Regions from separate parts of the Homo sapiens genome. Here region 2 is linked to region 1. Evidence: fine-mapped expression QTL. A gene starts in region 1. The other region holds a variant in brackets. All regions are shown on one strand. Distances are between the middles of the regions.

Region 1 (5,381 bases):
CTCCCACACTGACTCTGGGCCGATGTGATTTGGCCCAGAGGACATTTGTCAAGCAGAGGCTTAAGGATTTGCACATCAGGGCTTGCCCTCTTGGAACATTTGCTCTTGGCACCCTAAGCTACTGTGTAGAGAGGTCTGGTTACTCTGCTGGAGAAACTAGGTGGACAGAAAGATGTCTGGCCAAACCCAGCTTTTTCAGACATGCCAACTGAGCACCAGACATGCATGAAGAAATTATCTGGGATGTCCCAGACTTAGTAGATACTACACTAAGCAGAACGACCCAGCGGAATTCAGAATTGGGAGAAAGTGTTTTAAGCCGCTAACTTTGGGGGTAGTTTGTTGTGCACAGGGTTCTGTGGTGTGCTGGATGCCCTTTAAAAAACCTCATGAAAAACTAAATTTGTAATTGGTCAGGGCCAGGTATAGTGGCCTTCCTGTTACATATTTTATTCATGCAACCGACATTTGAGTTCTATAATACAGTGGTGAGTGTGGCATAGATATGTGCTTTCATGGAGTTCTCCAATGGATGAGATCAATAAACAGGAAACAATAAAAAATAAGCTGGGGACACCATGGAACCATCCTGTCCTCTCTTTCTGTGGCTCACAACCTCATTTTGCCTTTATGAATAACCCAGTGAACAACCTTAGCAGTCAGAATAGGCAAGTTGTGTTGATACAATGAACAATCCTAAAACCTCAAATGATTGAAAAACCACAAAAGTTTTTATCTTATACATGTTTCTTAGGACCACAAAGGCTCTGCTCCACATCATCTTCAGTGATACAGGTTGATGTATCCTGTCTCCATCATTTCTGGAGTGTTGCCAGTCTATGGAAAAGGAAAGGAATGTGAAGAATTGCTCTTAAAAAGTTATCACATTTTTCTTGGCCAAAGTATCACATGGCCATGCCTAACTTTAATAGGGCAGAGAGGCAATCCCTAATCCTGTGCTGGGAGGAAAGAAAACCAAAAATAGTTTTTGAATCAACAATCACTACCAGCAAACATTCAGTCTCTCTAGCTTAATTCCTTAGGAGCTGGATTTTGTGACAATTTTGGGTTTCAGATCTTTTGATATGTCTTTTCTTGCCACCTTCACCTGTAACCAGCAAGCTAAAACTTAAAGGGTGGAAGGGAGGAGAGTTTATTGAGTACCTACCCTCTGCAGGGCAATGTGCCAATGTACAAATGTACTGCATTTCTTCACATCTTTCAGACTTCACTTTGGCTAGTGTAAGATAGATCATTCATCAGCTTTAGTGCTGTATACAGGACTGACTAATGAAGAAATTGTGACAGCATGGAGATAGAAGAAAAAGGAAAATCAATATAATTTTAGAACTGGAATGTGACTAAGATCGTTAAATCTAACCTTTTGAACTTAGGATGAGACAAGGTTCTACTCTATATTGTCCCAGCTCTGAGCTTAAAACTGAGGGGAAAAAAAAGATATCACTGAGTAATGGTAGAAGTTCACCAGTAACTATCAGTCATGCTAGCTCCCCCTAATTGTTTTCTGTCTCTAGATGTTTATGCCTAAGACTTCGCATGTTGGGGTTGAGACCTTAAAAGTGAGAAAATCTATATACTTCTCTTTTGTCTTAAAATTGTGTGCAAATTCTGCAATACATCTTAGATTTAATCTTTAAAAACCTTTTCTGCTGGGCATGATGGCTCACGCGGGTAACCCAGCATTTTGGGAGGCTGACGTGGGTGGATCACTTGAGGTCAAGAGTTTGATACCAGCCTGGCCAACACGGTGAAACCCCGTCTCTACTAAAAATACAAAAATTAGCGGGCATGGTAGTGTGTACACCTGTAGTCCCAGCTACTCAGGAGGCTGAGGCACGAGTCATTTGAACCCAGGAGGCAGAGGTTGCAGTGAGCCGAGATTGTGCCATTCAGCCTGGGTGACAGAGGCTGAACAACAAAAAAAAGGGTGAAAAAAAACAAACAAAAAAAACCCAAAACCTTTTCTGACCTAACCTTCCACTAAAATAGCTAGATATAGATCTTCAGCTGGAGAAACCCAAGGCCTGAAAGGCTTGGTGTCTTTCCTGGATTAGTAGTGTAGCAGTATAGCATATGACCCTAGAATTAAGGAGCCCCAAATTTGCATCTGGATTTTCAGATTCTGGAAGAAGAACCTGGACTCTTCTAGTCATGTGCTCTTGGACAAGTTATTCAACCTTTCTGAGCCTCAGCTTTCTCCTCTCTACAATGAGATAATTACAGTACTTTTAGAATTAAAAGATAGTTTAGGGGAGTGAGAGATCACCTCCAACCCTCCCTCCCCTTTGCTCTTATGTGGGCTCTTTGGTTGAATCTAGGAACCAAATTGACACATGGCAGATTAACAAGAGAAAAGCATACTAATTTTACTAGTTTTACATGTACATGGGGATCCGCACAAAAGAGTGAAGTGGCCAATGTAAGATGCCTTTATACTTTTTACACGAACTACAAATCAGAAGAAAGGGGATCTGGCTAGGGGCAGTAAATTTCTCGCGGAGTCATTAGGAGAAAAGTGTGTGTGTTGGGGTGTAAACTTAGTGGAAGATAACGGTTACTTCGGAAAGTATATTCAGGTCCAAAGCAGCCCCCAGTTTCGTCTCTGGTGATAGGTGCTATTTTCTCCCTCTGGTAAGGGACGGGTACTCCAGAGGAATCCTGGAGGAAGCTTTATGGCTTGCTGCATGCAGGAAGAGATAGGTCATCAAACCTTTTCTGAAACTACAATTTCTCCAATATTTTCAACTCGAAATAATCAATGTACCAATTCCATATATTTTTGGGATGGCACATCCATCAGTCCTTCAATAGAAAGTAAGACGATGCCCTTAAAACATTTAGCTTCCTGCCTGGCACAAAGAGCTGAATTAATACTGTCCACGCTCCCATAGCTATTAACAGCAAATAACAGAACCCAGCTTTAAGCCTTGGTCTCCTAATTCCTGACCTGTGTTCTTCCCATCACATCACAACCAATACTTCTTAGAATGTAGCACGCAAAATGCCCCGCCTACTCCATTGGCCTCACCCTGGCCGAGAGGTGCTTACGCAGGTGCTGAACGGCAGTCGTCAGAACTGCGCCTGCGCAAGCGGCCTTTCTCTGTTCGCGATGTGACGTAACGCGCCTGCGGACTGGGCCCAGCTTGTCCTCTATGACTTACCCAGAAGGCAACGCTTCTCTTTCTGGTCAAAATGGCTGGTAAGCAGGCCGGTAAGTAACTGGGGGTCTTCTTGGCCGGCATCGTCGCGCTTCACCGTTTATTTTTGCTGCAGCTTGCTCCGTTTTCTCTCTTCTTTGTAAGTGGCCAAGTTTGTCGCGGAAGGGAAATTGGCTGCTTCAGTCCAGTGAAAAGGATGTGCTTCCCCACTCGTTTGCTGTCCCCAGGGCGGGCTTGCCTGTATAGGGTTGGGATGTTAACCCGCTGTTTGTGAAGGTGCCCGCGGTGGCTCTGACAGCCCTGGAGTTCCAGCTGCCCGTGCTTGGAAGTCCTTCCCCTTGGCCTTAGAAAAGTTAAAGGGCACAAGAGGATAACTAGTGGATGACTTTCAACCCGAATGAGCTCAGTGCTTTCTATGACCCAAGTGCTCTATCGTGTGCATTGGCCCTATAAATTTTCTTGCCATTGCGACGAGGGAGATATTAATTTCCCTTTTACGCTGATAAGATAACTGAGGCAAAGTGACCCAAGGAAGTAGAATTGGAAATATCATTGCACCCCTCGCGCTTCTCAAACTGCGAATCAGAGACAGTTGAGCAAGGGATACGAGCGACGCTTCAGGTTGACCTTGGATTATCTAGAGCGTCAGCTTGATCAGTAGGTTTGGAGAAATTTGAATTTATTGTAGGTTCTTTTTTTCTTTTTTCTTTCTTTTTTTTTTTTTTTGCTAATCTCTGCCCTCTGGCGGTACAAGTTGGAGTAGCCGTTTTGTTTGTTTGTTTGTTTTGTCTTTGAGACGGAGTCTTGCTTTGTCGCCCAGGCTGGAGTGCAATGGCACAATCTCGTCTCACTGCAATGCAACCAAGTTGGAGTAGCTTAAAAAATGTTGATCCTTTTCTCCCCGCCCCCAGCAATTGTGAAGCTGTTAGGAAACATCAGGTTGCCAGAAACATCCGTTAACCTAATTGACATTGAGCTTTTTGGGGGTGGGGGAGACTTTTTAAATAATTATTTTATTAATTTGGCAGATATTGAAGGAGTCTTACTAAATTCAAGACACTGCTTCTGTGCGTGTTTGGGAACTACATAGACCAGATCTCAACTCCCATTAGCTAACTCTGACCTTGGGTGGGATCACTTCTGTAAGCCAGCTTCCCCTTCTGTAGTAACAGACATGTAAATAAATCAGCTAATGTTGGTAAAGCAAATAGGAAAGTGTTTGGTGCACAATAAGTGCTTAGTGAATATTATTATAGTCACTGATAGGTGGTTGAATATAATCTGTCTTCCACAAGTATGTTTGTAGATTGTTGACTGATACTTGTTTTTCTAGCAGCAGTTTTATACATGACTCTTAATTTCCAAGGAGATTTGCTAAAGCCACGTAATCTGTAGTGCACTGAGTTTGCAAGCAAGGAGAGTTGAGTGAAAGGAGAGTTTGCTTTCCTTCCTTGGTAAGGGCTAACCCTAGACAAAATTTTAAAAGAGAATACAAACCTGTTCTACCTCTCCTTTTGTAAAATGTCTCTCCTAAAATGTCAGATACGGTCCTGCTGTACTTGGACCCTGCTGGGTTACTTCATCAGGCTCAGCCCTGTTCCCCAAACAGTTTTAAAATTACCTATTTCTCATCCTTTTTCAATATCCATTCCCTTGGGGGGAACTTAGTTGCTTAGGAGGAGGTAAATGGACTTCTTTTACGAATCCATATTAATGTTTAAATGACTAATGGTATCAAAATCCTCCCCAAAATACATACATTTTTAAAGAATGTGGCCAAATGAAATAACTGTAATATCGAGTAAAAATTTTAGAGGATGAGGGTCATTTAGACCTGCCAGTCTATGCTGAAATCTCACTGTCTTTTCCCTACAACTCCAGCTCTCTTGAAATGAAAAGTTTACAATTATTTCCTGTGATCTATTTATGAAACTACAAATGATGGAAATTTCCAAGTCCTTTTCCTATCTCCCACCCCTTCATTTCTGAAGGTAACAGGGCAGGCATAAGGGCACACGATGTACCTATGGATCTTTTGTACATTCAGTGTTTGAGTTTACCCTTTTCTTTCATGACTTGCCACCATTTTCCTGCAACCACTTTTGCTCATAAATAAAATAAGCACTTTTTATCAACATTTTATAGAGTATAAACTTTTTTCTTTTAAATCTAATTCTTTTGATTAAATTCTTGCTGTATATA
Region 2 (5,381 bases), 120 kb before region 1:
ATTGGTCTTGGAACGGAGAACACAAGGAAGGGCCAAGGGACCAGCTGGGCAAGGAATCAGCTCATTAGTAGCCTCTATGGAGGTGTTGAAATTGAGCAAGTTAAAAGCATATTAGTTTAAATGAGACTTTTCACAAATGAGGGGAAGTGTTTAGGTAGGAAGCAGATGTAATCATTTTGTGATGGGGCATAATTTGATAATTAATGGAGAAGTTGTCAGTATAATCTTGAGGGAGCCCCAGGAAATGAAGAAATCTGTCTTTATTAAGGGAAACTCAGGAGAAAAAGTTATTGGAAATGCAAGTGATTCACCAGCAAGGTCCTGGTGGCAAGTCGTTATTAGATGTGCATGTTGGGACCGTCTTTCTGCCACATCTGTGTGTTTTGTCTTGATTCACCAGGCCCACTACCTCTCCTAATGGGAATGCAGAGAATAGAGAACATTGAAGGCGGTTGTGAAGCAAACCCAGGCTTCTTTCTTCCGTGCAGACGGGCTGGCCAGCGTCTGCTATGCTTAGCAGGAAAGCAGGGAGAGACAAGCCTAACTGGCTCCCTGGGGGCCAGCCAGATTTTGACTCCCTAAAGCCTGTGCAGCCAGGGTTCAGTTTCCCAGGGAGATGCTAGGAGTGTGCTTCCATGGAATATGTGAGCCCATGGAAGAGCAAGCCCAGGGAAGCACAATCCTAGTATCCCACTGGGAAAAGAGGCTGGGTGGACTCCCACTTGGCCAGAACAGGAGTCCAGGAGAAAAACCCCACAAGGGTGCCTATGCACAGTGATTAAGGCACGGGCTCTGGAGCCAGAATGCCTAGGCTCAGCTCTCCACTTGGCCACAATTTCTCTTGACATTAAGTGTGCTATTCAAGGTCTCTGTGCTTCAATTTCCTGGTGCCTATCTCATAGGGCCAAGGATGGGAAGAGTAATTCTATGTAAAGGACCCACAGCAGTGCCTGGTGCTGAAGGTCTGCTCAACAAGTGTAGTTAGCATTTGCCGTTAACTACTAGCCATGTATGGCATTTGAGCACTGGAAATGCAGCCAGTCTTGGTTGATATGTGCTGTAGGTGTAAAATGGACATAGAATTCAGACTTTGTGCAAGAAAGAGAATATAAAATATCTCATTGATAATTTTTATATTGATTACATATTGAAATGATAGTATTTTGAATATATTGAGTTAAATAAATACATGTTATGAAAATTAGTATTGCCCGCTCTTCTTTTCTTATTATAGTAAAAAACACTAACATAAAATTTACCCTCTTAACCACTTTTAAGTGTACAGTTCAGTAGTGTTAAATATGTTCACATTGTGGTGAAACAGATCTCCAGAACTTCTTCATCCTGCAACTCTGAAACTCTATACCCATTAAAAAACTCCCCATATGCCTCTCTCTTCAGCTCTGGCAACCAACATTCCACTTCTTGTTTCTAGGAATTTAGATATTTTAGATACCTCATATAAGTGGAATCATACAGTATTTGTCTTTTTGTGACTGACTTCTTTCACTTACCATAATGTCCGCAAGCTTCAGCCATGTCATATCATGTGATAGGATTTACTTTCTTTTTAAGGCTGAGTAATATTCCATCCTTTTTTTTTTAGGGTGACTATTAGAAAATGTAAAATGTATTTGTGGTTCCTATTATATTTCTACTGGATAGTGCTAGTTTAGAACTAGCGGTTCTCAACCTCATCAGTTCCAACCCCTCCTTACCACAATGAATTTGTAACACTCTCTTCACTCTCCTGAAATAAACTGTATAGATAAAATAACTCATATGCACACATAATTTTTAAAAAAGAACAATATAATAACCTAACTGTAAGTATATAGAATAAATGAAAGGAATCTATAGAGAAAAAATATATTTTAATTTACTGTTAGACATGACCACTTAATACAAAATAATCAGATGCTTCAATGAATATGTAAAATCACCACTAATGGGATAGGTATCAATGCAGAGTAGTAACTCAAATTTTAGGAGTGATGTTGCCAGCAGAAACATGATGTCCTGAAATGAAACAGCTCAGTAAAATTCCAACAAAACAAAGTACAATTTTCTCTCTATTTATATGGTTACATTCTTACAAAAATGCATGTAAATTTAAATGAAGTAAAATATATAGGTATATATGGAAACTGTAATTAGGTTCTGGGCTAAGAGACTTCAAAATAGATTTTTCACCTAAATGAAAGCCCAATGAGATATTTACAAATCAAGAGGACCCCAGAGAAATTTTTCACTTTGCAGAGCTGCCCTGTGCATTGCAGAACATCTTGTTTCCCTGTGTCACTGTATATCTATCGAAGGCCTATACCATCCTTCAACCACTGGGACAATCAAAAGCATCCCCTCTATTTTCCAGTGCTCTCCCATGGAGGCAGCAGAGCCTCCACTGAGAAGCAGCGATACTGAATTGTGAGAAACACAGTGTGGTGATCCCAAA[G/A]GTTCACTGTTCAGGAGCTGCTCGGCTTTTCTGCCCGGTGGTCTCATCCATCCGCGGTTCCCACCATGGCTTTCAGTAACTCAACGTGAGGGGAGTCCTCTGGTCCAGCAGTAACCACTCTCCAGCACAGACCAGAAGGCTAGATGCTGAAGTTTCTCCAGAACTTCAAATACAACAGACTCAGCCCTTTTCCCTGTAAACCCATGCCTTTCCTTGACATCTTAGTTTCACTGTCACCAGTGTTTTCTCCAACCCCACCCCGACCCTTACATAAGGCAGAATCACCAAAGCCTCTTCTCTCTTTGCTCATGGCCTCCCATTTCCCCTGCTTCCAGCTTCCCTGCCTCTCCCTTGGATCTGCAGGTTTCTCAGTGGCCCCTCATTGCTCTTCCTCACTCTAGTCTGCCACCGCCACTCCATCCTGTTCATCACAGCCCATGAAAACTGGGAAGCATGAGGTCAGCATTCAGTTCTTTGCAGTCAGGCCCAATGTTCCTTTACAGTCCTCCAGAAGTCTCCACCAAGAGCTCTTCCCTTTCATCTGAGTGAGAGGCAGCATAGCCTAGTGGACAAACTCAGGCTAGGATCAGCAAGAGCTATCCTGTATTGACCTAGCCCTGCACAGTCATGAGCTGCTGAATGATGGGATATGTTCTGAGAAATGTGTCTTTAGGCGATTTTGCCATTGTGCGAAACATCATAGAGTGAATGTATACAAACTTGGGTGGTATAGCCTACTACACACCCAGGCCATGTGGAATAGCCTATGGCTCCTACGCTAAAAGCCTGTACAGCATGTTATCATACTGAATGCTATAGACAACTACAACACAATGGTAAGTGTTTGTGTATCTAAGCACACCTACACATAGAAAAGGTGCAGTAAAAATATGGGATAAAAATGTTTTAATGGTACATCTGTATAGGGCAGCTCCATTATAATCTTATGGGACCACCATTGTATATGCGGTCTGTCACGGACTGAAATATGGGTTTCTTTTTTTCTTTTCCTTTTTTTAGAGACAGGGTCTCGCCCTGTCACCCAGGCTGGAGTGGAGTGGTATGATCACAGCTCACTGTAGCCTTGAACTCCTGGGCTCAAGCCATCTTCCCACCGCAGCCTCCCCAGGTAGCTGGGACTATTAGGCATGAGCCACCATGCCCGGCTAATTTTTTTTTCTGTAGCGATGAGGTCTTGCTATATTACCCAGGCTGGTCTCAGACTCCTTGGGCTTCAAGTGATCCTCCTGCCTCCACCTCCCAAAGCTCTGTGGTTACAGGCGTGAGCCAGTGCGCCCGCCCTGAAACATGAGTTCCTATCCAAACTTCACTCCTTATTAGCTGCCTCTGGGTAAATGAGTTAGCCTCTATGTACCTCCTTCTTCCTCTATAAAATAGGCTTCACCATATGTGCTCTGTGGTGCTGTTATAGATAATTAAGAATGTGCTTGTAAGACACCAAGGACTAGGCTGGCTTGTAGGAGAAACAGCCACTGCTGGGTCCCTAGACCATGTTTTCTCTTCTTCAGCATTGTTCCTTCTCTCTACACATTGAGCCAAATATTTGCACAAATTTCCTGTCATCTCAGTCAGACAGTTATCCCATAACAGACCATAAGGGGAGCTAAGACCTCATTTCACTAGATATGGACTAAGACAAAAAAATATGTATTTACTAGAAAACAAAAACAGCACTTTCGGTGGACTGTAAAGTTCCCGAGGGCCATGAGAAGTAATAACTGATGGGCACTGAGCCAGCAGGTAACTGACTGTACAGCTCTGGTTTTGCGGGTGGGGTGGATGTGTTTGGGAACTGCAGAGGCCATAGAGACTGTCCGCCCTGGCCCCTCAGTCCTGCATGCCCTCTGCACTCAGCCTCAGTCTCTCTAGCAGGTGAAATTCAAGCAAAGATTTTTAACACATCAATTTGAAGGAGTGTCCGATGCATGCCAGCCCTGGGTGCCTAGTGTCTTCTCCTGGATATGGCTGCATCAATGCTCAGGCTGTCATTCACAACTCCAGGGCCCACCTGGTCTGGGAAGCTTTTCCCATTTTGTCACTCCCTGGCCATCCTTCCCTTCTTGGAAGTCCCGAACACTCACCAAGAGCACATCTGATGATCTTCTCAGTTGGGTTTTTGTATCTCAGTGAAATAAATGATGAACCTCTCAGGGACAAGAACAGCATCTTGCACCTCTTCCCATCCCCTATAGCCCCAGGTCACTGCTATACTAGGAGACAGGCAATGAAATGTGACATGAGTGAAGGATAGAGACAAATGTTCACAAATTCAGGAAGAAATCTCAGAGTGTGGGGGATGAAAGAAGTTAATTATTAGCTCACTTTATCTGAGCTGGCTTGGGTGTGGTCTTGCTTAGAGGACAGGTGAGGTGGCCCAGCCGATGGTTTCATGGCACTTCTCTCATCAGTGGGCTCTGTTCTTCCCAACACACATGCTGGACTCTCAGAAGGATGCATCTCCCTCTGTGCAGATTTTGCCGTGAATTACCAGATAGAGATCAATATTAAGTGTGGTCTCTGCTGACTAAAAGTTGAAGACCGTCTCAGAGTGCCTTGAGGAGATGGACTTGATTCCCTAATAGTGCCTACCATCCATTGAAGGGGGAATTCTTTTGGCATAAAAAATTCAAGCATCCAAGTGGAGGCCCCTTCCCCTCCCCTACCAAAAAACAAAACTTGAAAAAGAGCTCATTCCCAAAGTTGTTTCTTCAGAATACAGAACCTACTTGAAACAAAGTTTAACCTTTCTGGGGTTCAAGTTCATTTATCCTTTGCATATACAACTTCAGCAGCTTCTTTATTTCTAAGAACAAAGTCTTGTTAAAAGGAAAAAAGTCTCTACAGTCTCCTTGGACATCAAATAGTTCTTCAGAGAAAACGCTTTGATGAGCTAAGTGTAAATGAG

Which allele goes with the higher level. Alleles are on the strand shown, and positions count from the first base shown. SD is a standard deviation of normalised expression in the study named.
With allele A in place of G in region 2, the expression in thyroid of the gene that starts at base 3,199 in region 1 is lower (moderate effect, 0.62 SD a copy in GTEx).

The links. PIP is the estimated chance that this variant, and not a neighbour inherited with it, causes the effect.
Region 2: its variant is the best candidate, but not a certain one, in a credible set for the expression of UQCRB in thyroid (GTEx, PIP 0.88).

What each region holds. Positions count from the first base shown.
Region 1 is chr8:96,233,363-96,238,743 of GRCh38, reverse strand. It overlaps UQCRB (ubiquinol-cytochrome c reductase binding protein), which reads left to right and starts at 3,199. Exons shown (of 4, transcript NM_006294.5): 1 at 3,199-3,232. The coding sequence starts at 3,214. It overlaps UQCRB-AS1 (UQCRB antisense RNA 1), which reads right to left and starts at 3,451. Exons shown (of 2, transcript NR_183275.1): 1 at 3,183-3,451; 2 at 1-837. RefSeq lists an enhancer at 3,193-3,472.
Region 2 is chr8:96,354,042-96,359,422 of GRCh38, reverse strand. No RefSeq gene overlaps it. Among named protein-coding and RNA genes, the nearest start is that of PTDSS1, 95 kb to the right of the region's middle. The variant G/A (reference allele first, on the strand shown) is at 2,456.